Linked DNA regions of Homo sapiens: region 1 is linked to region 2. The links come from fine-mapping of genetic effects on gene expression. A gene starts in region 2. The other region holds a variant in brackets. All regions are shown on one strand. Distances are from middle to middle.

What was found. PIP is the estimated chance that this variant, and not a neighbour inherited with it, causes the effect.
Region 1: its variant is fine-mapped to the expression of GABPB1-IT1 in visceral fat (GTEx, PIP 0.96).

What each region holds. Positions count from the first base shown.
Region 1 is chr15:50,281,531-50,293,165 of GRCh38, reverse strand. GABPB1 (GA binding protein transcription factor subunit beta 1) reads left to right here. Exons shown (of 9, transcript NM_016654.5): 7 at 3,498-3,683; 8 at 6,983-7,098. Among named protein-coding and RNA genes, the nearest start is that of HDC, 22 kb to the right of the region's middle. The variant A/G (reference allele first, on the strand shown) is at 7,569.
Region 2 is chr15:50,347,754-50,364,401 of GRCh38, reverse strand. GABPB1-IT1 (GABPB1 intronic transcript) reads left to right here and starts at 9,523. Exons shown (of 1, transcript NR_026891.1): 1 at 9,523-15,466. GABPB1 (GA binding protein transcription factor subunit beta 1) reads left to right here and starts at 9,204. Exons shown (of 9, transcript NM_016654.5): 1 at 9,204-9,417. It overlaps GABPB1-AS1 (GABPB1 antisense RNA 1), which reads right to left and starts at 10,228. Exons shown (of 1, transcript NR_024490.1): 1 at 6,090-10,228. It overlaps MIR4712 (microRNA 4712), which reads right to left and starts at 4,073; the gene lies at 3,992-4,073. RefSeq lists enhancers at 8,651-8,730, 8,799-9,422, 10,161-10,220 and silencers at 8,931-8,980, 9,561-9,810, 9,821-10,030.

The DNA of each region.
Region 1 (11,635 bases), 69 kb after region 2:
TATGGATGGTAGCTTGATTTTAGTAGAGAGTGGTTTTATTTAATTACACTTTTTGTAAAATTACACTTTTTGTAATTGCACTTTTGTAATGTGTAAATACATTAAAAACCATGCCATTTAGAAATAATTTTTAATGTCATTCCTCTTTTTGAACTAGTTATAATTTTTTTTTTATATGTAGACAGTTTTCAAACCCACAGAAAAATTGGAGGATGAACCTGTATAACTTTCACCTGTATTCACCAGCTGTTAACATCTTGGCATGCCCATATGTTCTCTGACACATGTGTGCATGTACACACACACACACACACACACATATACACACTTTTATTTTGCTAAGTTATATGAAAGTAGGCTGGAGACATCATGATACTTCACCTTTACTTTGGCATGTATCTCTCAAGAATAAGGATGGCCTTCTACATATCCACAGCTCCATTTTATTTTCTAAAAACATCAACATTAATTAAAAAAAATTATCTGACATATGGTCCATTTTCAAGTTGTCCTCCAAATGTCGTGTATAGTCAGATTTAGTTCAGACATTTCCAGGAAGAACACCAGTGAATTTTTGTAACCTCCCAGTGTATCACGTAAGGAGGCTCATAATATCAGCCCATCCTGATAATGACCACTTGGTAGAATGATGACTGCCGGGTCTTTTCAGGTAGATTTTCCCCTTTGCAACTAATAGTAATCTTTGGTGGGATACTTTGAGAACATTTGAATATCCTGTTTCCCCAAAAGATTTTATCAATGCTTTTAGCACCCACTACCGATCCTTGCTTGAATGAATTATTACATTAGAAGTTACAATGATTTATCTTTTTTTTTTTTTTTTTTTTTTTGAGATGGAGTCTCACTCTGTCGCCCAGGCTGGAGTGCAATGGCGTGATCTCAGCTCACTTGCAAGCTCCGCCTCCCGGGTTCACACCGTTCTCCTGCCTCAGCCTCCCGAGTAGCTGGGACTAGAGGCGCCCACCACCGCGCCCGGCTAATTTTTTGTATTTTCAGTAGAGACGGGGTTTCAATGTGGTCTCGATCTCCTGACCCGCCCGCCTTGGCCTCCCAAAGTGCTGGGATTACAGGCATGAGCCACCGCGCCCGGCCGCAATGATTTATCTTAACTTGTCATTTTTTAAATGTTAACTAGATGTCTTTCTATCAGGAATATCTTTCCCATTTCCTCCTTTCTCTCCTTTTTATGAGGTATTATTATAGATAGAATTTTTTTTTTTTTTTTTTGAGACAGAGTCTCACTCTGTCACCCAGGCTGGAGTGCAGTGATGTGATCACTGCTCACTGCAGCCTCAACCTCCCAGGCTCAAGGGATCTTCCCACCCTAGCCTCCCAAGTAGCTGAGACTACAGGTGTAAAACACCAAACCTGGCTAATTTTTAAATTTTTTGTAGACAGTTTTTCACTGTGTTACCCAGGCTGGTCTTGAACTCCTGGGCTCAAGTGATCATCCTGCCTCGGCCTCCTGGAGTGCTGGTATTATAGGCATGAGCCAGATAGAAAGATTTTTTAAAATTCAGGCTGGGCGTGGTGGCTTACGCCTGTAATCCTAGCACTTTGGGAGGCCAAGGCAGGCGGATCACAAGGTCAGGAGTTCAAGACCAGCCTGGCCAATATGGTGTAACCCGTCTCTACTAAAAATACAAAAAAAAAAAAAAAATTACCAGGCGTGGTGGCACACACCTGTATTCCCAGTTACTTGGGAGGCTGAGGCAGAAGAATCGCTTGAACTCGGGAGGCGGATGTTGCAGTGAGCTGAGATCACGCCACTGCTCTCCAACCTGGGTGACAGAGTGAGATTTCGTCTCAAAAAAAAAAAAAATTCAATGGATAGTAATCCATTACTATCATTCCTTTTGATGCTTTCTTATTGAAGTGAGGTTTAATGTACAGAAATGTTTATAGATTATAAGTGTACAGTTTGAGGAATTATCACAAAGGGTTTACATAGGATAATTGTAAACATTGTGTAAACATTGCTCAGTTCATAAATGGAAGGTAGACAGTACATATTCTTTTGTGTCTGGTTTACATCACTCAGTTTTGTTTTTTGTCAGGTTCATCCATGTTTTGCATATAGTCAAATTGCTGTGTTTGACTCTACCATTGTTAATTTATTATCAAAGAATATCTGCGTTGTTTGTAGTTTTTTACTAGTATGAATAAAGCTACCATGTATATTCTTCTACATGTCTTTTGGGATCAGTAGTTGGGTGTAGGATTGCCTGTGAGAAAGGATTTTGGCAGTATTAACTTGTGATTTCTCTACCCAGACAAGGCCACAGGTGCTGCTTGAGCTGCCAGAATCCTCTCTAAGGCTTTCATAAATTATTAAGAGCATATTTGGGGATTTTATTTGTGGAAATGTTAACATACACTATTTACTATCACATAGTACCACATCTGTATGCCACTTATTATCAAGGCAAATCCTTGCTCACTTAATCCAAAAAGAGAATACTCTTTATTCTGTATGTCAACTCACACATAAATGTAAATGGAGTATAATCATATTCAAATTCATCTTATGAATTGTGGATTTTTTTTTTTTTTTGAGACAGGGTCTTGTTTTGTTGCCCAGTGTAGAGGGCAGTGGCATGATCTCTTCTCATTGCAACCTCTGCCTCCTGGGTTCAAATAATTCTCCTGCCTCAGCCTCCTGAGTAGCTGGGGTTATAGGCATGCACCACCAGTCCCAGCTAATTTTTGTATTTTTAGTAGAGACAGGGTTTTGCCATGTTGGCCAGGCTAGTCCCGAACTCCTGACCTCAAGTGATCCTCCCGCCTCAGCCTCTCAAAGTGCTGGGATTACAGACCTGAGCCACCAGCACCCGACTGAATTGTGAGGTTTTACGAAACAGATATAACCTTTGTCATGATATTAGATCTAAATTTTGTACCTCATACAACCAAATGAGAAATTGTTTAACCACTCACATGTAAAGATAGTTGGAACTGATGTATTGTAAATTATGAGAGACTTGTAATCAACTGGTTACATAGATATCTCCAACACCTCTGGCGACTGAGTTTTAAAACCATGTACAAGTTTTCCTGGGTAAGAAAGAAGCAGGGGACCAGGTGTGGTGGCTCATGTTTGTAATTCTCAGCACTTTGGGAGGTCAAGGCAGGAGGCTTGCTTGAGGCCAGGAGTTTGAGACCAGCCTGGCCAACATAGCAAGACCCCATCCCTAAAAAAAATAAAACTAGTCAGGTATGGTGGTACATACCTGCAGTCTCAGCTACTTGGGAGGCTGATTCAAGAGGATTACGTGAGTGCAGGAGTTAAGGATGCAGTGAGCCATGATTGTGCCACTACCCTCCAGCCTGGGCATCAGAGTGAGACCCTATCTCTATTTAAAAAAGAAAAAAGAAAAGAAAGAAGCATAGAAAGCAAAAGTAGCAGACAAAGCAAAAATAGGTTTCTATTCATACCGTTACATATGTTTGCTGAGTTTTCTTTTTTTTTTTTCCAGTAGTGGCCACAGAAGAAGTAGTTACTGCAGAATCTGTGGATGGTGCCATTCAGCAAGTAGTTAGTTCAGGGGGTCAGCAAGTCATCACAATAGTTACAGATGGAATTCAGCTTGGAAATTTGCACTCTATTCCAACCAGTGGAATTGGTCAGCCCATCATTGTGACCATGCCAGATGGACAACAAGGTTAGTAGTAGACATTTATATAAAGTTTGTATGTTTTTTTTTTTTAATTTTTATTTTCTTTAAGTCTTCCCTGCAGTCCAAAAAGATTGTGTTTATTTTTAATTCTCAGGAAATTGTGGTATGTGTTCCAAAGAATGTATTTTTGCCTTGAGTTATATTTGTATAACCCTTTGCAATAGACTTAATTACCTAATTTTATTTGCTTAGGCTAATTAAAATTCAAATTAGCTTGCTTTCTCTGAGTATATACTGGTGGAAAGAGAAATTGGCCCCAAAGTATTCTGGTTGAAAAATGAGCTTAAATGTCAACACAAATAATATCCAAAATAAATAATTCAAATCAGCATTGGACAGTAGTTTCCTAGATCATTTAATGCAATTCAATTACCATGTGAGCTTTTAAAAATACCATATAAGAAAAAGCTACTTAAAAAGAAGTTGGAGCCTGGGCAACATAGTGAGACCCCATGTCTAAAAAAAATATTCAAAATTAGCTAGGCATGGTGACATTTGCTGATAGTCGCAGCTACTTGGGAGCCTGGAGTGGGAGAATTGCTAGAGCCCAGGAGGTTGAAGCTGCAGTGAGCCATTATCATGCCACTGCATTCCAGCCTGGGCAACAGAGAGAAACTCTTTCTCAGAAAAAGAAAAAAAAAAAGGTGGACTTAGGACTTGTAGTAGGAATATGGTAGCACATTTTAGCAGCTTTATTGTGAATTCTAACATTTTTCTCCTTTTGGAAACCACAAAGGCTAACAAGATGAAACAAAAGTCTCAGCTACATTTTCAGTGAAACTAAAAGGCTGAGAAAAACCTCAGAATTCCACATTTTTAAGTGCCGCCAAAAGCATCTGAAGCCATTACAGCCAGGGCAAGAGGACTCTCATAGAAATCCACACTGGTGCATCAAGGAAAGAAAAGGGGTTAAGCTCAGCAATAAACATGCTCTCTCAGAAGGATAGGGCCCCAGACTCAGTAGGAAGTGCTGCATGCAGGACTGAGATAGAATAGGGCATGAATACTGAGGCAGAGAGAAGCTGTAGAAAGTGCCTAAGTAAGCATTGCCCTGTACCTTGTCTCCCCCTAAAAGAAGTGTCCACACATAATCTTTGAGAAAATGACTAGGGCTAGTAGTATGGTGGCTCATGCCCATAATCCCAGCACTTTGGAATGCTAAGGTGGGATGATTGCTTGAGGCCAGGAGTTCAAGACCAGTCTTAGCAACACAATGATACTCATCTCTACAAAAATAAAAATGACGAAATTAGCCAGGTATGATAGTGTGAGCCTGTAGTCCCAGCTACTTGGAAGGCTGAGGCAGGAAGATCGCTTGGACCCAGGAGTTTGAGGCTGCAGTGAACTATGATTGCACCATTGCACTCCAGTGTGGATGACAGAGCGAGACCCTGTCTCCATAAAAATAAAGAAAGAAAGAAAATGAGTAGGATTGTAGAGCGTGTGCCTTTCATGGCCAGTGAAGGGCAGGGCTTGAGGTAGAACTTCGCCTAAACCAGGTTTGGTTTTGAGTGACAGAGGAGGCATGGCATTGAACAGAGACCAGATTTCAAGAAAGGAGTTTGTTGCTGTAGCAGTAGGAGAGGAAACCCTTGACCTCTGAAGCCTGGAGGCCATTCTGTCCCACTCTGCTGAAATCTTCTGCTGATAGCTGGTCTGAAATTTGGATTAGGGTCAGATGCTTTCACAAAGCATTAAAGAACTAATTCTAATTTTCAGAAAAGAAGAAAACTTTAAAAATATTTGTATCAAGCAGACATAACATTGTTTCCAAAACCCGTATCATTATACAGACTAATGATTTCTCACAGCTCTGAAGGCTAAAAGTGCGAGATCAAGGTGTTGGGCAGGTTTGGTTTCTTCTGAGGCTGCTCTCCTTGGTTTGCAGATGGCCGTCTTGTGGCCTGTCCTCACATGGTCTACCTCAGTATTTGTGTTATCTGTGTCCTAATCTCCTCTTCCTGTAAGGACACCAGTAGTACTGGATTAGGGCCTATCTCATTTTACCTTAATTATCTGTTTAAGGACCCTATCTCCAAATAGAGTCACACTTTGAGGTACTGGGGGTTAGGACTTCAACATGTGAATTTGGGGAGTGGGAGTGCCATTCAGCCCATAACAAATACCAAGTTTTTTTCTGTAATTAGCCAAATGGCTTCTAAAGTTTATGTTGATGGGGCAGAGGGAAGAAGAATAAGGAAAACTCTGGAAAAGAATAACCATGAGAAAGTTCTACTGAATATTTAAAAAAAACTTCTAAAGCCTTCCTGAATTAAAAATATATAGTTTACATGTGAATTATGTAGACTTTACAGACAGTCTAATAAACAGATTTAAATTCTCATTTTTTCCTGAGGTAATTTATGTCATGAATAAAAAAGAAGTAAAACCCAAATTCTCAATATTTCTAATGTTTTAAATTACATTGTACTAAATAAATATTAGTTTTACTATTTTTAAATTTTTATTTACATTTATAACTGTCACTAAGAGAGTTTTTCATGTTTTGGCAAAAAATTTTAAAGGCCGTGGAACAATTATAATTTTCCCCATTGTGATTATTAAAATGGCTTCGCATGGTTTCAGCTTGCACAGTCATTTTTATGTTCCTGTAGTGCTGTGCAAAGCAAGGACAGCCTCTCTATATAATTGCATTTATATAAAGAGCTACTAAAAATTGAGAAAAAGCCCAACAGTACAATACAAAAACAAGCAATGTTTATGAACTATCAGTGCTCATAATGGAATATGCACTTAGTGGATATTATGCAGCTAAATAAACAGAAGCTCTCTATGTAGTGATGTAAGATATTATAAGTATTTGGAGTGAAAAAAGCAGATGCAGAACAATATATCTATTGTATAGATGCTACCTTTTATGTAAGAAAGGAAAATGAGAATGTATACTAATTTTTAAACAAATTAATATAAGGATAATACATAATAAATTAATAAAATGATCATCTGTTAGCAGGGGTGGGCATGAGGCCTCTCAAAATATGCTCGTTAAATATTTTGATGTTTTGAGTCATGAATGAATATATTATCTATATAATTAAAAAAATATTTGTAGGTACTTTAATAAGTAGATTTCAGTAAAAAAGCAAGAAGGTAATAAAAAAGACAAATATGGATAGTCTCATAAAAAGCAAATCAATGATTTGGAATTATTGTTTTGGAATGTAGTTATTTTAGATGAGTAGCATCAACAATGTCAAGACTAGTTTTATTTCTAATAAATCTCTCTGAAAATGAAGTAATACATAATTTTTTTTTCATTTTAGTATTAACAGTACCAGCAACAGACATTGCTGAAGAAACTGTTATAAGTGAAGAACCACCAGCTAAGAGACAATGTATCGAAATAATTGAAAACCGGGTGGAATCTGCAGAAATAGAAGTAAGGAGTCTTTTACCCGGTGTGCTTTGCCGCAGTCATCCAAAATAAATTCAATTTTTTTTGTCTTTTATATTTATTACTGACAGTATTGTTTTGATACAGAATGAAAGTGCGTAGTATTTTCATTTTGTTTATTTTTGCCTTATACATATAGCAAGCCCTCAATAAATAAATATTGAATGAATGAATGAGTGAGTGAAGAATTTGTTTATAACAGTCTGTCATCTTGATAACACTGGAATGTCTTTGGTTCTTCCACTTCATCCTTTATGTTTTAAACTTACACACACCATTCTTACACGTCACTAAAGGAAAATACCAGTATATATTGGCTAAAATTTTTTTTTTGTTGTTCAAAACTGAAACTCAAATGCCTAATTGGGCTAGGGGTCCTCTTAAAGGAGGTTGATGTTTGTCAAATGGGTTATTTTTTAAAAGCAGTAGATAATTGCTTATTTCAAGGCAAGTAA[A/G]TGAATTTAGACTAGCTGTTCATAGGATTCATCATTTTTTCCCCTCTCCCAAAGTAATTTGTAAGCGTAAACCAGTTTGTAGGTGTAACAAAACCATAGTTGCTTCACAGGTTTTTTTCTTGACTGACTGTAAATAAATTTTGTTCCATGAACTTGATAATAAGTTATATCAAATGAAAACAAAGTTATACTTGAATAACTTTGAAAGAACAACTGCAGCCACTGAACTTGAAATCAAATGAACTGAGTTGGAATCCCACCTCTTGCTCTGTTAGCATTGAGGCAAGGAATCTTATCTTTCTGAGTTTCAGTTTTATTGTGTCCCAAACTGGAATTTAGAATAATAATAATGTCTCCATTTTCGGGTTTTTGTGAGAATTGAAAAAGTCAGCATAGTCATACAATATTTATATCTGATACGTGTTTGTAGTAAACTTGGTGAATATTTAGTAATTTTTTGTAAAGGTTCTTGTTATAGAAAGGAGATTTTTAAAATAAGTCACTAAAAGACAACATAAGTCAAACTAAAGACAATGAGAAAATACCCTTCCTAAATTCATGTAAATATAAGACTGGTACATCTTTCACCACACCACAAATATATTATTGAGTTTAAAAAATCTGGTTATTGGTTAAACCGGAATATTTGGTAAAATTATGACTTTAAATATTGATGTTGGGTTGTTTTATTTCTTCAAGATTTAAAGTGATGTGTAGGATGTTGAAGTTCTTATTCACAAACTAACAATTTTTCCATTGAATAGTATCAGTATACTTATTATTTAATAATTTTTGTTGTTTTTCTGATATGTCAGATGATCTTTTTCAGACACATAAGGTAAAAAAATTGTCATGTACTTCGCTTTAACTATCTAATAAAGTATTATTTTAAAATTACTTGAATTTTTATTAAATGTAAGCTTATTTAATTCAACAGATTATATTTTTAAACAGTGAATGTGCAGCCTATACCTTTATTTACCTAATGACCAGTAAGCATTGCTGTTTCCCTCAAAGTTCAGCCTGATTTCTTTCTTACAGTCTTTTGAGAGACCAGGGAAAATAATTGCAAATAACAGGGAAGTATGAATTGAGAGGTATATAAAGTAACTAGGGCCAAGGAGATGGAGCTTTAGGGAGATTCAGTTTTAGCTTGGTATGAAGAACAGTGATTTTTGTTTGCTTGCTTTGTTTTGATTTTAGTAATTAGAGCTTTCTGGTAATGGAAATCTTATTCTCCATCACTAGAAATGTTCAAGCCAAGGTTGCATGACCTCTTAGGGCTATTTCAGAGAAACCTGGAAGCATACAGTGAGTATACAGGTAGTGGTAGGCTGGAGATATAGAATGAAGAGATGACCTCCAATGTTTTCACCAAACCAGGTAATAATTTCCTTATAATACATGAAGTCGTTATTTTGCATTTATTTTCTTAGGTGGCCAATGGGGTTATCTTGGGGGGAGACTTTTATACTCCTAAGGGACAGCTTGGCCATTAACTTTCAAAGTTTCTCTAAAGCAGCGTCAGGAGATATATTTGGTTGTCATGACTAGTGGCATTCCACTGACATGTAATGGGTAGAGGCTGGGTAGACATCCTACGATGCACAAGACAGCCTCCCACAATAAAGAACTGTGTGGCCCAAAAATATCAGTGATGCTGAGATTGAGAAACTTAAAGAAATTTAAAAATTAACTCTATACAAAATCTAATGTTTGAGTTTTCTCCATGTATCTGTGACTGCAATGACCAGAGTGACTGTCCATAAAGAAAGTGCTAAGAGTTGGCTGGGTGCGGTGGCCTACACCTGTAATCCCAGCACTTTGGGAGGCCAAGGTGGGTGGATCACCTGAGGTCAGGAGTTCGAGACCAGCCTGGCCAACATGGCAAAACCCCATCTCTACTAAAAAATACAAAAATTAGCTGGGTGTGGTGGCACGCACCTGTAGTCACAGCTACTCAGGAGGTTGAGGCAGGAGAGTTGCTTGAACCCGGGAGATGGAGGTTGCAGTGAGCCGAGATTATGCCATTGCACTCCAGCCTGGGTGACAGAGTGAGACAAAAGAAAAAAAAAAAACAATAAGGTGCTAAAAATTTATGTTTACAGTTTCCCAACTAACAATGGAGAGGTTTGCCAAGAGTCTCTGGAAAAATTACTTTAAATTGTAGAAAGTGTATTGTAAATTTTGTGGGGCTTTACATCTGCATATGGCAATATAGGAAATAAAATAGGTTTTTTTTTTTGGAGGGAAAGGTATGAATAAAATACCAAATTGCAATAATGTATATAATTTTATCTTCCATTTATTACCGCATTGAAGATATTTTTGGAGGAAGAGTGTTATTTACAGATTTCCAAAAATAAACGTTAGACTATTCTGAATTGAAATTAATCTTTGTACATGTGTAAGAAATGTATTTAGTGTATTAGGAGTAACAGATTTCTATTACTTACTTTATTGTGTGACTTCAGGAAATACCTTTATGTTTTCTTTGCCATGGAGGTTAGAGATAAATGTTTATTAGTAAATTTTATTTTATTTTTTTAGATAGAGTCCCTGTTGCTCAGGCTGGAATGCAGTGCTGCGATCTCAGCTCACTGCAACCTCCGCCTCCTAGGTTCAAGTGATTCTCCTGCCTCAGTCTCCTAAGTAGCTGGGATTACAGGCATGCATCACCATGCCTGGGTAATTCTTGTATTTTTGGTAGAGACGGGGTTTTACCGGGTTGGCCAGGCTGATCTCGAACTCCTGACCTCAGGTGATCCATCCGCTTCAGCCCCCCAGAGTGCTGGGATTATAGGCATGAGCCACTGCGCACGGCTGTAAATTTTATTTTTATGAAATATTTGTGTCCTTAACTGGTGGTAGATTTGAGATCCTTAGTGCTCTCTTAAAAACTGATTTCTGTAAACTTTATAAAATGTTTTATTTGATGCAAAGCTTTTCAATCTTTTTTTTTTATGGCTATCTTTCCTGATCTGCCACAATTTAAAAATGTTTATAGTCACATCCGTCTCTGTTTTTTTTTTTTTTTCTTTTTTAAGGCAGGGTCTCACTTTGTCACCCAGGCAGAAGTGCAGTGGTGCAATCATGGCTCACTGCAACCTCAAACTCCTGGGCTCAAGCAAGCTTCCCACCTCAGCCTCCCAAGCAGCTGGGACCGCTATACCCGGCTAAGTTTATTTTTATTTTTATTTTCATAGAGAGGGTGTCTTGCTATGTTGCCCAGGCTGGTCTTGGACTCCTGGCCTCAAGTGATCCTCCCACCTCAGCCTCCTGAAGAGTTGAGATTACTGGCATAAGTCACCATATCCAGGTCATATCTCTTCTCTCTCTTTTTTTAAATTAGTGTTTTTATGTATGTATGTATGTTTGTATTTATTTATTTATTTTTTGAGACAGGGTCTCACTGTGTTGCCTAGGCTGGAGTGCAGTGGTGCAATCACAGTTCACTGCAGCCTTGACCTCCCTGGGCTCAAGCAATCCTCCCACCTCACAGCCTCTTGAGTAGCTGGGACTACAGGCTACACCACCATGCCCAGCCAATTTTTGTATTTTTTTGTAGAGATAAGGTTTTGTGGCTGGGCATGGTAATTCATGCCTGTAATCCCAGCACTTTGGGAGACTGAAGTGGGAGGATCACTTGAGGTCAGGATTTTGAGATGAGGTTTTGCCCTGTTGCCCAGGCTAGTCTCTCACTCCTAGGCTCAAGCAATCCACCTGCCTTGGCCTTCCAAAATACTAGGATTACAGGCATGAGCCACTGCATGCCCAGCACCCAGTCTATATCTCTTTTTTCTAAGGCTGGAGAAGGCAAAGTTTTTTTTCATAAATGGCCAGGTACCAAATATTTTTGGCTTTGTGGGCCCTACAGTCTGTCAACTACTCAATTCTGCCATTGTAGTGAAAGCAGCCATAGACAATTTGAAAATGGGTGGGTGTGGCTGTATTTCAATAAAACTTTATTTATAAAAACAAAATCATACTTGTCATATTTGGCTCAGGGCAGTTAGAAAATTGATGTTTACACACAAGCAAATAGCTCACATATCCTGCCCAGTTTC
Region 2 (16,648 bases):
TAGGTAGCCCAAATGCAACCTTAACTCTGAGATACAAAATATAAGGTTGAATGAGTGGCTGTGCCTAAACAATTTCTGGAAATCAAAGTTCTTGGTGCCTCTGGGGAATTCTGATATCAGTGACTTGGCCAAAGAATTTCACTTGCTTACTGGTGGTCTTCTCTAGAACTCACGAGCAGGGAGACAAATGGAGATAGGGTGAGATGCTCACCCAACAAAGTGAAAAATTTTCAGCAGTGTGTCTGCCAAAAATCCACACATTATTCATCTGCAAACCTAAAAACAGGTAGGAAGGAACCAGTAATTGTTTTATGGTACAGAATTTTTAAAAAATTTTCTTTAATGTTATAATGCTATTTGTATGGTAAATGAGTTTAATAAATCTGATAAGAAAAAGTCTTCCTCATTGATTACAGTAGTTTATACATTTTAAGGAGATACTGATGCTTTTCAAAAGGCATGTGTTCATCACCAGGATAAGTTATCTTTCATTCCAAGTATTAATGACCTTTGATTGGCAAAACCATATTGATCTTTTCTCTTAGAATTTCAGGTGACTAAAACTGCACTGTAAACACAGTGAACAAAATTAAATAACACTGCAGTGTTTCCCAATGTGCAGGATCCATACCACTGGTGATAATCAACATAGGCAGTACATGAACAAAGCAGTAAATAACATTGAATCACACAGCAAGAAAGTTATTCCTGTTTACAGGCCAGGCGTGGTGGCTAATGTCTGTAATCCCAACACTTTGGGAGGTCAAGGTGGGTGTCTCGCTTGAGCTCAGGAGTTCAAGACTAGCCTGGGCAACATGGCAAAACCCCATCTCTACCAGAAATACACAGAATTAGCCAGGCATGGTGGCTGCGCTTGTAGTTCTAGCTGCTAAGGAGGCTGAGGTGGGAGAATCACCTGAGCATGGGAAATCCAGGCTGCAGTGAGCTGAGATCTTGCCACTGCACGCCAGCTTGGGCAACAGAGTAAGACCGTGTCTCAGAGAAAAAAAAAGCTATTCTTCATTCAAGCCTTGAGATTCGAAGTGCTTGGTTGGCAAGAGTATCTAGATAGAATTTAATAACTGGTTTGTTTTCATTATACTAATTTTTACATTTACTATCTTGACTTTTTCCCCCCTTATTGACAGGCGTTTACATTTGTCTGGATTACCCACATTCACAGACGCGTTAAGACAGGAGTGCAGGTGCTGCTATGTTATGGGAACCCCTTAGTCAAAAAACACAAAAATCCAATGGTCTTTTCCCAGGGCTTATCTTTACTTGAGCTAAATTCTCCCCATGGTCTTCTGTAACACACACTTAGCCTCTCCAGGAATGGTGTAGTACACAGAATAAACTGGAGTCAAGCTGGTTTTGAATGCTGGTTCTTTTTACTGCTTTTTGAGTCTACAAAGCCAGTCTATCAAGTGAGGCTAAAATTGGCTACCTTGGAAATGGAAAGGAATAAATGAGATAGTAAATGTAGAGCAGCTGCCATACAGTTTAACAGATGCTCAATAAATGCTGATTTGCTTTCCTCCTTCGCTTCTCCTTCTCTGTCCTTCAGTACTTTTCTCAATATTCTCTCTCACTGGTTTCCTTCACTCTCATGGCTTTATTACCCTTCTATGGATGGGTAACTTCTAATTTTCTATCACCAATTCTGACCTTTTTTCAGAGTACCAAACCTTAGCTTTTGTGTGTTTAATAATTCTACCTTGATATTCTGGCATCATCTTAAACTCAATCCATACAAAATTTCTCTTTCTACAAAAAACTTGAAGGCAGTGGGGGTAAGGTGAGAGAGTCACAGGAGTTGGAGTGAGGAGCCACAAGTTCTTTTTTTTTGTCCACATCATGGGATTTTTTTTTATAAGTTCACTGGTTTTTAGTCTATGTTCTATCTACTCTAATCACCTGAACATGTTTCCTAGCTTAATTTCATGTTTTTCGTCTGTGATGGAGTGATAAAATGAACATTTTCTGTTTATAACTTTTTGCAAGCTTAAAAAATGCCATATAAAATTGCTATTGACATCTGATTCAACATGGTGGGATGAGGGAAGGAGTTAAGGATGAGATTTTGAGCCTGAGTTCTGCAGTGTCTTTTGCACCTGTCTCGCCTTTCCTTCACCATTGTCATTCCCCAGAATTCAGGCCTACCTTATCTTTCACATTTGTGATGCATTTACAGAAAAATTGGCTCAGTCAGGGAAGTAATAGTTGGTAGTGTGTATCCAGCATTGCTCACGAGTTTTAAAAATAACCATGAAATATATAATATACATACTGAAAGTACATTTTTCTCCAAAAAACCTACTTCTCATTAAGTCATAGAGTGCTAACACTCATGTAATCCCAGTGTCTTAGAATGTTCGGCTTATTTGGCTCACGGTTTTGCAGGCTGTACAAGAAGCATGGTAGCAGTATCTGCTTCCAGTGAGGGCTTCAGGCTGCTCACGGTGGAAGGCAGACAGGAGATGACATATGCAGAGATCACATGGCGAGAGAAAGGAGAGAGGAGGTGCCAGTCTCTTAATGAACTCACTCCTTACAGAATACGAAGCCACTCATGAGAAATCCACTCCCACAACCCTTCCCACCAGGCCTCACCTCCAACACTGGGGATGAAATTTTAACATGAGACTTGGTAGGGTCAGACAAACCAAACTCAAGCCATAGCACCCTACTTAGGAACAGAACATCAACAGCACTCCAGAAGCACCTATTACCTCCCAAGCACTACTCCCTGCAAAGCTAACTATTTCTTTTCTTTATACTTTTACTACCTAAACATATATCCCTAAATCTAGATTGGTTTGCCTGTTTGTTGAACTTCCCATTTTCCAAAGTGGTTATACCAATATACATTTCCAGCAGCTGTGTAGTTTCAGTTACTCCAACTCTTGACCAACATCTGGCATTTTCTGGGTTTTCCATTTTAGCCATTCTGTTGGATGTGAGATTAAAATATCATTTAGGTTTTAATTTGCATTTCTCTAATGATTAAATTAGTTGAGTATCTTTTACATGTTTATCGGCCATCTACACGCCCCTTTTATATTTTTTAAGAAACTAATATTTAGATACCCTTTTTTGTGAGGTGACTGTTTAAGTTTCTACCTTTTTTTTTTTTTTTTTTTTTGAGATGGAGTCTTGCTTTGTCGCCCAGGCTGGAGTGCAGTGGCACGATCTTGGCTCACTGCAACTTCTGCCTCCTGGGTTCAAGCAATTCTCCTGTCTCAGCCTCCCGAGTAGTTGTGATTACAGGTACGTGCCACTACGTCTGGCTAATTTTTATATTTTTAGTAGAGACAGGGTTTTGTCATGTTGGCCAGGCTGGTCTTGAACTTCTGACCTCAAGTGATCTGCCTGCCTGGGCCTCCTAAAGTGCTTGGATTACAGGTGTTAGCCACTGCCTGGCCTCTACCCATTTTTTTATTGGATGTCTTCTTTTTTATTGATTTGTGGGAGTCTACAAATTCAAGATAGCAGCAAAGAGATGTATTTCTATTGTAGACATGAATGCATTTGGCTGGGTGTGGTGGATTACATCTGTAATCCCAGCACTTTGGGAGGCTGAGGTGGGAGGATCACTTGAGCTCAGGAGTTTGAGAATAGCCTGGGCAACGTGGCAAAACACAGTCTCTACAAAACATACAAAAATGAGCTGGGCGTGGTGGTGTGCACCTGTAGTCCCAGCTACTCAGGAGGCTGAGGTGGGAGGATCGCTTGAGCCCAGGTTGAGGCTGCAGTGAGCTGAGATCACATCACGGCCTTCCAGCCTGCATGGGCGACAAGGTGAGACCTTATTCCCTCCACCTCCCCAAAAGATGAAATGAATTCATTTGTTTGATGCTATTAGAATACCAGTAACTCCCCTTACTTTGGCCCCAAATTCACAAATGAACCCTCCAAAAGGTAATGCAGTTAACTTCATGCATTCTCTTTAAACAATGTACTGAGTCTTTATGCCAGGGAATTTGGAATTAACAGATACAGTACAGGTCTCTCATTTCAAAGTAGTATTCCTAATCATGAAGGAAATGAGAGACCTGTACTGGAATCCTGTCTTTAACACCTTTGAGGATGGTGAATTTAGGTAAGTTATTCAACCTATTTTAGCCTCGGTTTCTTCATTGGAAAAATGGGGCAAACAATACTTATTTTACAGAGTTGTGAGGATTAAATGAGACAATATATATAATATGCTTTGCACAGTGGCTGGCATACAGGAAACGTTTAATATATGGTAGCTACTATAAACTCGGTTATTTCCGTGTAGCTTTCCATGTCTACATGGAGGGAGAAAATGAGCAGATGTCCATTATAATTTAGCTATTACAGTTTTCACTCTAAAGTAAAAAAGGCATTTAGATTTATATGTCTTCTGGGAGTTTGGTTCTTCTGACTCCCTTCATCTGTGAGACCATAGGTACTTTTATGTAATATGATAAAAATTATTAGAAAAAGAAAAAAACGGCCGGGTGCAGTGGCTCACACCTGTAATCCCAGCGCTTTGGGAGGCCAAGGCAGGTAGATCACCTGAGGTTGGGAGTTCGAGACCAGCCTGACCAACATGGAGAAACCCGTCTCTACTAAAAATACAAAATTAGCAGGGTATGGTGGTGCATGCTTGTAATCCCAGCTACTTGGGAGGCTGAGGTAGGAGTATCGCTTCAACTCAGGAGGCAGAGGTTGCGGTGAGCCAAGATCGCACCATTGCACTCCAGCCTGGGCAATAAGAGCGAAACTCTGTCTCAAAAAAGAAAAAAATAAACTAAAAAGGAAAAAAGGGCCGGGCACGGTGGCTTACGCCTGTAATCCCAGCACTTTGGGAGGCTGAGGCAGGCGGATCACAAGGTCAGGCAATGAAGACCATCCTGGCCAACATGGTGAAACCCCGTCTCTACTGAAAATACAAAAATTAGCTGGATGTGGTGGTGCACACCTGTAATCCCAGCTATTTGGGAGGCTGAGGCAGGAGAATCGCTTGAACCCAGGAGGCAGAGGTTGCAGTGAGCCGAGACTGCACCACTGCACTCCAGCCTGGCGACAGAAAAAGACTCCCATCTCGAACACAAAAAACAAACAAAAAAAGGGAAATAAAGAATATGCAAAGTACAATCCCTCAAATTTTTATTAGACCCACAGAAATAAAATTAGTCTGTTAAACTGCTATAAGTTTCTAAATTCTTACTTTCTGTAAATGCCTTGACATGGATGTGTAACAAAGGGCTTACAGACTGGCACTGCCTTGTGGACCACACTTTTGGTGAGACTGCTCTAGAGCGCTGACAAAAATCAGACTTTGAATCCACAGGGCTGAAGTCAAAGCAACTGAAGGGTGTCCTGACTCACCAGCTGGCCACCTAGTGGCCTCCTTCTAGTCATAAGCACAACCTTGTGTCACTCCTTAGTTCAAAAACCATCCATTATTCTGCCTGACTCAAGGGTAAAATCTCAGTCCTTTAATCTGACATCCAAGGCCTTCCAGAGCTGGTTCTAAACAACTTTTTAAGTCTGACTTTCCACTATCCTCTACTTCACTAGACTGCATTGTCCAATATGGTAATAACTTGTCCCACTTGAAATGCAGAAGTGAAATGAGGCTAATTTAGGAACTGAATTCATAATCCTAACTTTAATTTAAAATAAAATTTAAAAATATACACGATTCGATTACCGTAAAACTTTTAAGTATGCTTGGAACGACTTGGGTACGTGAATCTATTTTTTCAGCTGGAAATTTTATGAAATCAAGTACTGAGATATGCTATAAGTATAAAATACACACCAGATTTCAAATGCTTAGTTATGAGAAAGATAATGTAAAATATTTTTAATATTTAGTAATTTTTTATGTTGATCACATGTGAAATAATATTTGGATATGCTAGGGGTTAAAAGTGTAATTAAAATTAATTCCACCTAGACAACATGCCCCAAACCTAGGCATCACTATTGATTCCTCCCTTTCCTCATTTAATTGGTAAGCAAGATAGGTCAGCTTTTTGGATCCATCCACTTCCCTCATCTCTACTGCTACTATCCTAGTCCATGATACTCCATTTCTTTTTTTTTTTTTTTTTTTTTTGAGACGGAGTCTCGCTCTGTCGCCCAGGCTGGAGTGCAGTGGCACGATCTCGGCTCACTGCAAGCCCTGCCTCCTGGGTTCACGCCATTATCCTGCCTCAGCCTCCCGAGTAGCTGGGACTACAGGCGCCCGCCACCACGCCTGGCTAATTTTTAAAAAAATTTTTTATTTTGAATAGAGACGGGGTTTCACCATGTTAGCCAGGATGGTCTCCATCTCCTGACCTCTTGATCCTCCCACCTCGGCCTCCCAAAGTGCTGGGATTACAGGCGTGAGCCACCGCGCCCGGCCAGATACTCCATTTCTTAAATCCTTCAATGGCTTCCAGTGCACTTCACCTTCTTATTGAGGCTGAAGACTTCACCTCCTATCATTCCTTCTTTTGGTCACTAGATTTCGGATACACTGACCTTGCTATTCCCTAAACACAACAAATTTTTCACCTTAGGGCCTTTGCCCAGCTATTCCCTTTGGTCTCACACTGTTCTTGTCCTTTCTAATACCTTCTCAGTGAGGCCATCTCTGATCAACCAACCACCAAAAGTTTGCTCTCTTTTCCCCAGAGTAACACTTTATCCAATCAGCTTTTAATTTTCCTCACAAACTCTTTTTTTTTGAGGCGGAGTCTCGTTCAGTCGCCCAGGCTGGAGTGCAGTGGCGCAATCTCGGCTCACTGCAGCCTCCGTGTCCTGGGTTCAAGCTACTCTCCTGCCTCAGCCTCCGGAGTAGCTGGAATTACAGGAGCGTGCCACCATGCCCAGCTAATTTTTTTCAGTAGAGACGGGGTTTTGCCATGTTGGCCAGGCTGCTCTTTAACTCCTGAACTCAGGAGATCCACCCACCTCGGCCTCCCAAACTGCTGGGATTACTGGCATGAGCCACTGCACCCAGCCTTCTTCACGAATTTATGGGATATTCTCTCTCCTCTTATTTTTAAAACTTGTTTATATGCTGTTTCCCTCTAAAAAACAGGAGTAGGAACCATTTGTTTTGCTGCTGCTTTACCTATTTCAGTGTGTAGAACAGTACCAGGCACAGAGTAGGTGCTCTTCCAACAGTGTTGAATGAATATCTAATTGCACACTACACATATATGACTGGTTGGCTCACATGCACTTCAAATTTTACATGGTCAAAACAAAGACTTCTTCCTTCCCTAACATATATTCTCTTATTTTGTTTCTAATCTCAGTGAAGACATTACTATCCTCCTAGCTGCTCCACCAACTCACTTGGGAGTCACCTGACATCTATCTCCCTCAGTCATTTTCAGTTAACCAAATCTCCCAATAACCACTTTATTTTCTTCACACCTACCTGCTACCAACTCAGTCCAAGTCATTACTGGCTCACAGCCTACTGTTTACTCCAAACTCTTCTGTTTGCCTCAAATTTTTGTGTAACAGTGATCTGTCTAAAATGAATTCAATCCTATGATTCTTCTACTTAAAATCTTTCAATATCTTCTTCCTGGTTCTCAGAAGCTGACTTCTGCACATAGCATTCAAGGCCTTCACAAGTAGACCTCCAGCATTGTCTTCTTTACCCAACAATCTCTCTAGTGTTTGCCTCCAAACATCTGTACTTACTGCTTCTCATCTAGAAAGTCTTCCATAATACCCTTATTAAAGCTAATTGCTTCTCTAGTCCCATTCCATTTTATTCCTCCCTCTTGGTTTAGTAAGGGGTTCCTCCTTTATTTGATTCCACAGTATTAAGTAGCTTCACTCTCATCATACTGATGATGCCTATTTACTTGTCTACATTCTACAGCCTAAGATTAATGGGGGCAACGATTCTGTAACAATTAGCTGAATGTTCACTCAAATAAACAATGCTCATTCAAATAATGCTACAGAAAAACATCAGAATTTGGCAAATTTCTATTAACTGAAGAAATGAAAATATTAAATCAAAAGAAAACACAGCCTATGGTTCCTATGCTTTTTTTCTATTTTAGGCACAATGCTTTAATAAATTACACAAAGACTACAAACCTTTATTACATCAATTGTTACAAAAGGCTAAGTGGAGAAAGATTACTTATCTGAAGCTGCACAAAATCAGTGGGCAATATGGATTTCATTTAAGCTTGTCAATTCTCCTGGATTAAATTCTTGGCGCTGTCTCACATATTCCCAAGTCCTACATGTAGGATGCTAAAAGTTGCAGTTACTAGGTTGGGAAAGCCATGCCCAGACGCCCCTGTGAAAAACATATCAATATATTAAGTTCCTTAGCAAATCACATCTAGATTAAGTTCATAATGCTTTTTTTTTTTTTAACTTTGCAAATCTCCAAACTTTTGCTACTTTCTTAATAAAATACAACAAAATTTTTGGCATTCCAGCCACGGAAAAACAGATCTCTACCTCTGAGGTGGCAGTAATCCAAGCAGTTACTAGGATCTACGAAACATGAGGCATAATTAGAATGTTGGGGAAAAAATCTACAGAAATATCTATATCTTCGTCATGAACCTGACTGTTGAGTTTATGAAAAAGTGGAAAAGGAACCTCACTCGTTCCTTCCCTGGTACCTTCACAGCGTCTCCCGTCCCAGTCTGCCTAGTTGAATCTAGGGACACTTAAAGGTAAATCCTAGCCTCTTGGCTGTCCTTCCGTCTCCCAGGATTCTGCTAGGCCGCACAGTTGGCAAGCTTAAAACTCCAAAGATTCCGCACTCTCCGTCTTTCAACAGTCATGTCACAGAGACACGAAGGTTAGCACAGGAACATTAGTTTCCAAACTCCTACCCACCGCAGAACAGGCGGGAAGGTTCGGTGGCCACCCGGCCTCTCCGCCGCGCACATGGCCGTCCGCAGCTCCCACCCCCGCTGCCGCGCAGGCGCCGGGCGAGCCGGGACTTGCGGTCGCCGAGAGCGGATCATTCCGCCGCTTTCTTTGTGTGGCTGAAGCGCTAGAAATGGCATATTTTCTTTCCCTTCGTTAAAAAATCAGACCCTCTTTCCCCTCTCTCCCCGCGGGAACACAGCTAGGGAGTGGGTAGGAGCAGGATCTGCCGACGAGGGCAGAGGCGGAAAATCCTCGGGCGATGAGCTGAAGAGGGCCGGGTCCGGGAGGGATGCTGGGAGCTTGACTCACTCGCACACCATGTGTCCCTCCGCGCGCAGCACGGGGGACTTTTCGGTGGGGATTTTGGGCGCCGACCAGACGCGGCATTTTCGGAAAATAGCGCCCTGTGCAGCTGAAGCGCTTTGTGTGTAGCGGGGCCGCGTCAGCCCGGCCGGGTACGAGGCGCCTCGGGTCCCCGCACCACCTCCTGCTGCCTTCCCGTCGCCGCTCCCGAAGCTTTTCCAGGTCAGTGCGGGTCTGTGTAGGGCCCTGTTACCACCGGATGTGGAAGTTGATCTCTTCGCTGGTAAAAAATAATTCCACTTCCCCCGGAACCCAGATCATCCCCGCGATTTCCTGTTTATTGCATTAAGGCGCCGGGTTTCCGGGGCTCCTGGCCCCGCTTATTCCGCGGGGGTCGGCGGGGTCGGCCTGGGCGCCCGCGCCGCCGCTGCGCTTTGTCCGCTGGGCACACTGCTTCTGGGAGGGGCGGGCAGACATGGTGGCGGCCGCCGCCCCCTCCTCGGCCCTAGCATGCCGCGGCCGCCTCGCGGCTACCCGGCTTGCCGGTCCCGAGCGGCAGCCCCGGGGTGGCGATGGGGTCGCGCCGAGGCAGCGGAGGTTCTGCGGGCGACTGGAGGTTGGCAGTGGGCGGGAGAAAGAGGAAGGCAGGCGCGGCTGGGCCTCGGCCTCTGGCGCCGCGGTACCCTTTGTCTCGGCAGCCTGACGGCCCCGCCGGGCTCTCCGGAGAGGGGAACGGGCGGCGAGGGTGGCGGGTCCTGGGCGCCCTGTGCTGCGGGGCCGAGAGGCGCTCGGGTCGCGGCGGGATCGGCCGGACCAGACAGGGTTAATGGAAGAGCCTGGCCAGTCCCGCGCGGGGCCCCCGCAGCGACAGCCTTGGCCGCGGGGACTGGAGTCCTGAGGGGGAGAAGCCTGCCGTTCTGAAGGCTCGGGACTTCTGCCCCAAAGACTTCGCCGCCGAGAACTGCGGGTGCACTGCCTCAGGGAAGAAGTTGAGAATTTTGCCAGGTCATCTCTGCCAGGGCACAGTTCATCACTGTGTGTTTAGTGTGTTTCGGTGAAGCTCTCCAAGTGTGTTGAATCAGCGTGCCTAGCCTCAAGGGTGCATCGTGAAAACTGAAACCAAAGGAATGATACAGGCCTGCTTTGTGTGTGTCTTCCCACTTTAAGCTTGTTTTCAGTACAAATACTCTTGCTTTAAACCTGATTGGACTGTGGCGAGCGGACATCTGTTCAAAGGAGGGGCCGAGACCACAGTACTTCTGAAGGGGGCTTGATAATGTGGAAACATTTTAAGTTTTCTCTCCGGACTGTTTTGCTCTCTCAATTCAGGCAAGTTACTGAAGTACGTTTTTTATCTAGAAAAAGGTTTGATGTAGTCTGTAAATGGTCCTTGTAAAGTACATTGCCATCTCAGAATTAAAAGATCCACTCTCATTTATTATGCAGAAGTTAGTGGTCATTCTTTCCTGTAGATAGTTTATCTCATGTAAAGACCCACCCAGCTTGGTTTAAATTTTTTTCTCACTGACGTATAACCATCAGCTTTGATACTTCCATTTTCAGGCTCAGACTTTGAATTTAAGGAAACTAAAGATGACTTTATTTTCTTTTCTCTTGGTTTTTTTTTTCCAAAAACAAAAAATAAATCCATTACATGTTAACATAGATGATAAGAGTGACATCTTGCATTTTTGCAAATCTTTTTAATGCCTGGTTTAATAGAAGATTCTCAGATCTACGTCAGACTGTTGTGGTTAGCACACCATGTAACCTCTGGAACACTCCACTGTACACTCATACTTTTTTAAAAAAAAAACCAAAAAACAGAAATGTGTCATTCTTACCGTGCTTTCACCATACAAGTCAAATCAAGCTGTTATGCAAGACACATTTTAACAAGACTGAATAAGATTGATTCCCATACTTTTTTTACTGGGCTCTAACTTTTTTAAAAGTTGGAATTTAGGTGACTAAACAAAATCACAGATGAAGACTGCATAATCTGCCTATGATCTCGGAGACTCAGGAACATTCGAAGATATTCTTAAGTGATTAAAACATTTAATTCTATTACATATTTATAATGATTTACACAAGTAACACGTGAATTCCACATATGCTATCAACACTTGTGTAAATGTTATCTTTAAAGATAGAACATGTTGAAAATTATAGGAGGTACAGATTTTACAGAAAATTAATTCTGCAGTGAATCCTTTGGTGAAACGAACAGTTTGCAGAGACATATCCTTAGAGTTCTTTGTCTCTCTGAATCATTCTGGGTTTTCTAGGTTGGGAGACAATTATACTTATTGGGAGACAATTATACTTAATTGATTAATGCATAAAAATTTAAGGCCGTATTTTAATGGCTTTGAAAGGAAGCTAAGTTTGTTTCCAGTTGTTTCTGTGAACTGTAGTCTGAATCTGTCAGTCTATAGTTCTCTACTGTTCCATCAACAGGAAGCATCTGGTCATTCTTCGTGTAATTGTTAGAAAATACCAGGTGTACTTTTAATGTTTGCTGTTCAAACGAAAATAGATTGGATCTTGGTTAAGTTCACTTGGTTTGGCCAGGCACAGTGGCTCACGCCTGCAGTCCCAGCACTTGGGGAGGTGGAGGCGGGCCGATCACCTGAGGTCAAGAGTTTGAGACCAGCCTGGCTAACGCGGTGAAACCCCATTTCTACTAAAAATACAAAAAATTAGCTGGGCGTGGTGGTGCGCGCTTGTAATCCCAGCTACTCGGGAGGCTGAGGCAGGAGAATCGCTTGAGCCAGAGAGGCAAAGGTTGCAATAAGCCAAGATAGCGCCATTGCATTCCAGCTTGGGCAACAGGAGCGAAACTCTGTCTCAAAAAAAAAAAAAAAAGTATGCTTGGTTTTAGTGTGTTTTTTCCCATAACATTGTGTCATTGTAATGGACCACATCTCCTGTACCATGAATTTTTTTTTACTTTTTTCTTTTGCCCCTCAGTACCAGAAATATTAACAGGTAACAGGTAAAGTGCACGTCATGAGGAATTCAGAAATTCAGAAATTACATGAAGTTTTGCATCATGAATTTATTTTTGAGGGTGCACGAGGCAGTTACCCAGTCTCTGTTTGCAAGTAGCCTGAGTTCAGATGAACTCACTGATGGCCTCCATCTCTTCTGACTTTGCAAACGTTGAAAAACAAACCCACACAAAATCTTGAAGTTGAGAGCAACTTAGTTTCCTTAGTGTCATCCCTCTGCTCCCCTCTCCTCCCCAACAACTAGTATGGTTTCCAGCTAGTAATCACAATGTTTCTATAGCTCTGATGTGCCTACATTGGGATAGCTACAATTAGTATTATAGTTTTCTGAAGATGTTTGTTCCATCATGCTTTCTAGAAGGTAAATCTAGCACTAGATGAGATCAGTATTAGGGCCTGTGTTTTTTCTCAGTGTTGACATCACAGTGCTCTATACAAAGAAGATGCTTTGGTGCAATCAGCTGTCAGTTCAGTTGGTGGGCTAGTGCACCTTTCTGTCTCCCTCCCTCCCTCCCTCCCTCCCTCCCTCTTTCCTCTCTCCTTCTCCCTCTGTCCCTCTCCCTCTCTCTCCTTCCCTCCCTGTTTTCCCCTTTGCACCTCTTCTTTCTTTGACAGGGTCTTGCTTTCTCTGTTACCCAGGCTTAGTGCAGTGGTGCGATTATACTTCACTGCAAGCTCCACCTTTCAGGCTCGAGCGATCCTGCCTCTGCCTCAGCCTCCTGAGTAGTTGGGACTACAGGTACCTGCCAACATGTCTGGCTAATTTTTTAATTTTTTGTAGAGACGAGATCTCACTGTGTTGCCCAGGCTGGTCTCAAACTTCTGGACTCAAGTGATCCTCCCACCTTGGCCTCCCAAGTGTTGGGATTATAGGCGTCAGCCAACACACCCATCTGTGAATAATTCTGAAGTTGGTAGAACAGCTTATTGACAGAGCAAGGTGTTAGCCCCACTTTACTGTGTACTAGTTATATTATATTTGGGGTATTGTGTTGGCTTTTTGGGTAGCATACTATCATAAGTGAGACCTTGTATTCATTCTCAGACTTTATCAGAATCATCTGGAGAGCTAATAAAAAGCCACACAGAGGCCCAAACTTAAGTAGGGTAGGAACGGACCTTAATTTTTCTCATTTCCAAGGTGGTAGACACCTAAGTGTCAAAATCACTTATCTGTAGAGCATAAACGAGGACCTTGATCATGAGAGAAATGGAAATGAGAAAAAGTTGAAAAAATGGGATGTTTGACCTAAAGAAGAGGAGCTTCTTTTAAGAAGTAACAGCCACTTTTAAGGATTTGGAGTTCTGTCATGCAGAAGGATCAGATTTGACTTGACCAGAAGGAACTAGGGTCAGTGGGTGGAAGTTTAAAAGAAGCAGATTTCAATTCTCTTTCAAGATAAATTTCCTCAAAATTGTGAAAATAGAATGAGTTGTTTTGGGTGGTAGGCTGTTCCTGTTCACTGACAAATTGGGGATTCTAGAGTAGAGGAATCGTACTGAAGGAGAATTTGAGCTAGGTGTCTTCAAGTTACCTATAAACTTTGAGGTTTTATTAAATATGCCGAGGTTTACAGGTGGAAGAACAAAAAGCTAATTGAGTGAAACAAACTGGTTAACTTGATAATAGTTTTTGCCTTCCTGGATAAAGAGAAATGAGTATTAAGTGAGAAGGCTATTTAATGAAGGGCTTTAAACCACACTGTAATTTGGTAGATTCAGCAGCTTTAAAAATTGGCATACCTTCTGACATGGAAATTCCCTTTAAAGAATTTTTTTTTTGATGTAGTAAAGATGTGTGTGAATATTTAATTGTGAGCATACTAGATGCAGTATTGTTGATTATAAAAGCTGTGTATTAATGCCTTTAAGCCCCACGGTAATCATATGAAGTGGGTAGTACTATTTCTGCTTTTCAGAAGAAAAAACAGGCATAGAGAAATGAGGTTGCTTGCTCAAGGTACCTGAGTTAGTTAAGTGTTAGGGCCAGGACTTGAATCCAACCAGTGTGACTCTAGAGCCAGTACTATTGATCATTATATGGTAAAATTGTAAACAACCTAAATGTTTCACAGTGATTGTTAGGGTCCATCCCTACAGTGGGGTACTGCCTTCTCAGCCATGAAAATGATGATAGAATAATATAAAGACATGAAAGGATGTCTTGGTATATGTAAGTGAGAAAAAATAAATTTAAAAACATGATTCCATTTTGGTAAAAAAACCCAAAAATATATTATGTCTGGAAGGATATGTGCCAAATTGTTAAATGGTTATTTCTGAGTGTAGTTTTACAGGTGATTGTTTTCTTTTTGCTTATCCAAATTTTCTAACTTCTACAATGAATATAAATTATCTATCATGTTGTAATTAAGATATTAAGATGTAACTTTTCAATAAAAAATTAAATGTGTTAGCATAAGCTGAGAAATTTGGGTTTTATACTCTGCATTTTAAGCAAGTTTGTAGAAATTGTACATGAGAATTTGTAAATGCATGTAGTGTTTTGTAATTTTTTGTTTGATTCCTTATTCTAGAAGTAATATCAATTGAGTAGAGAAACATATCACTCCTACCACCCTACCATAATCAATTATTTTGTTGTGTGTTGTTACTCTTATGTGTAATATTTTAAATATTCATCCCAGTGTCATCCCAGTTAGTCATACTCTAGCTGTGTGATTTTAGGCAGTTTACTTAATCTCTCCGTGGCTCAGTTTCCTTCTTTGTAAAATGTGGATTATTATAATACTTAGCTCATGATGATTGGAAAGATTAAATGTTATTTCATATAAAGTGAACAGAACAGTACCTGAAACATAACAGTTAATAGCTCAATAAATGTTAGCAATTATAGGATCACAGTCCACCATTCAAACTCTTAGGGTCTAATAGGTTATGGAATTAGGAATTTTTTTTTTATATGGGCAAGGTAGTAATGTGTAGCCTTCCAATAGAGTCCAGTGCAATATCCCCCTTCAAAAGTGTTACTGTTTCTGCAACAAAATGTATGAATGTTCGCACTAAATAGGATAAAGACTGTAAATAGCTTCATATCAGTTTGGGTAAGGTTTACCACAAGATGAGTTATTTTGGGTTTCAGAAGTTTTTTGGATTTTTGGAATTGAAGATAAGGAACCTATAAAATATTAATTTTGAGTCCTATTTTATAATATTAAAACATCTTTTCATGGTATTTTATAGTTTTATAGTGCATGGTAAATTAAAGTCAATTAAAATGAAATAATGGAAAATGTCCACCTCCATCTCCTTTGATTTAAAAAATACTCAGCATACTGATACTATGATTTAAAAAAAATTTTTTTTTTGAGATGGAGTCTCACTCTGTCGCCAAGCTGGAATGCAGTGGCACGATCTTAGCTCAGTGCAATCTGCGCCTCCTGGGTTCAAGCGATTCTTCTGCCTCAGCCTCCCGAGTAGCTGGGACTACAGGTGCGCGCCACGACGCCCAGCTAATTTTTGCATTTTTAGTAGAAACGTGGTTTCACCATGTTGGTCAGGATGGTCTTGATCTCTTGACCTTGTGATCTGCCTGCCTCGGCCTCCCAAAGTGCAGCAATTACAGGTGTGAGCCACTGTGCCCAGCCAAAAAGTTTCAAAGTTTAAAAAAAAAAAAATGGCCGGGCTCAGTGTCTCATGCCTGTAATCCCAGCACTTTGGGAGGCCGAGGCGGGCGGATCACTTGAGGTCAAGAATTCGAGACCAGCCTGGCCAACATGGTGAAACGCCGTCCCTACTAAAAATACAAAAATTAGCCAGACGTGGTGTGTGCTTGTGTCTCGGCTACTCGGGAGGCCGAGGTGGGAGTATTCCTTTAGTCTGGGAGGCGGAGGTTGTAGTGAGCGGAGATTGTGCCACTGTACTGCAGCCTGGGTGACAGAGCAAGATTCTGTCTCCAAAAAAAATTTAAAAAACTACTCCTGTTGGTCCTGACTGTGATTCTATTTTAAAGAATATCTTAAACCCACTAATGCTGTGATTATATTACATAATGTAGAATCTTTTTCTGAAAGAGGCTTGAGCATTCCTATAACCCAATTAGCTTGTTTATGTCTCATTACACTTGAGGGATAAGATACTTTTACTATGGTGGTTTACTATAGTAGTGATTCTTTTTTTTTTTTTCCAGATGGAGTTTCACTCTGTCACCCAGGCTGGAGTGCAGTGGTGTGATCTAGGCTCACTGTAACCTCTGCCTCCCGGGTTCAAGTGATTCTCCCAAGTAGCTGCAGTTACAGGTGCCCGCCACCATGCCCAGCTAATTTTTGTATTTTTAGTAGAGACGGGGTTTAGCCATGTTGGCTAGGCTGGTCTCCAACTTCTGACTTCAAGTGATCTGCCCACCTTGGCCTCCCAAAGTGCTGAGATTACAGGTATAAGCCACTGCGCCCAGCCTATAGTAGTGATTCTTTAAA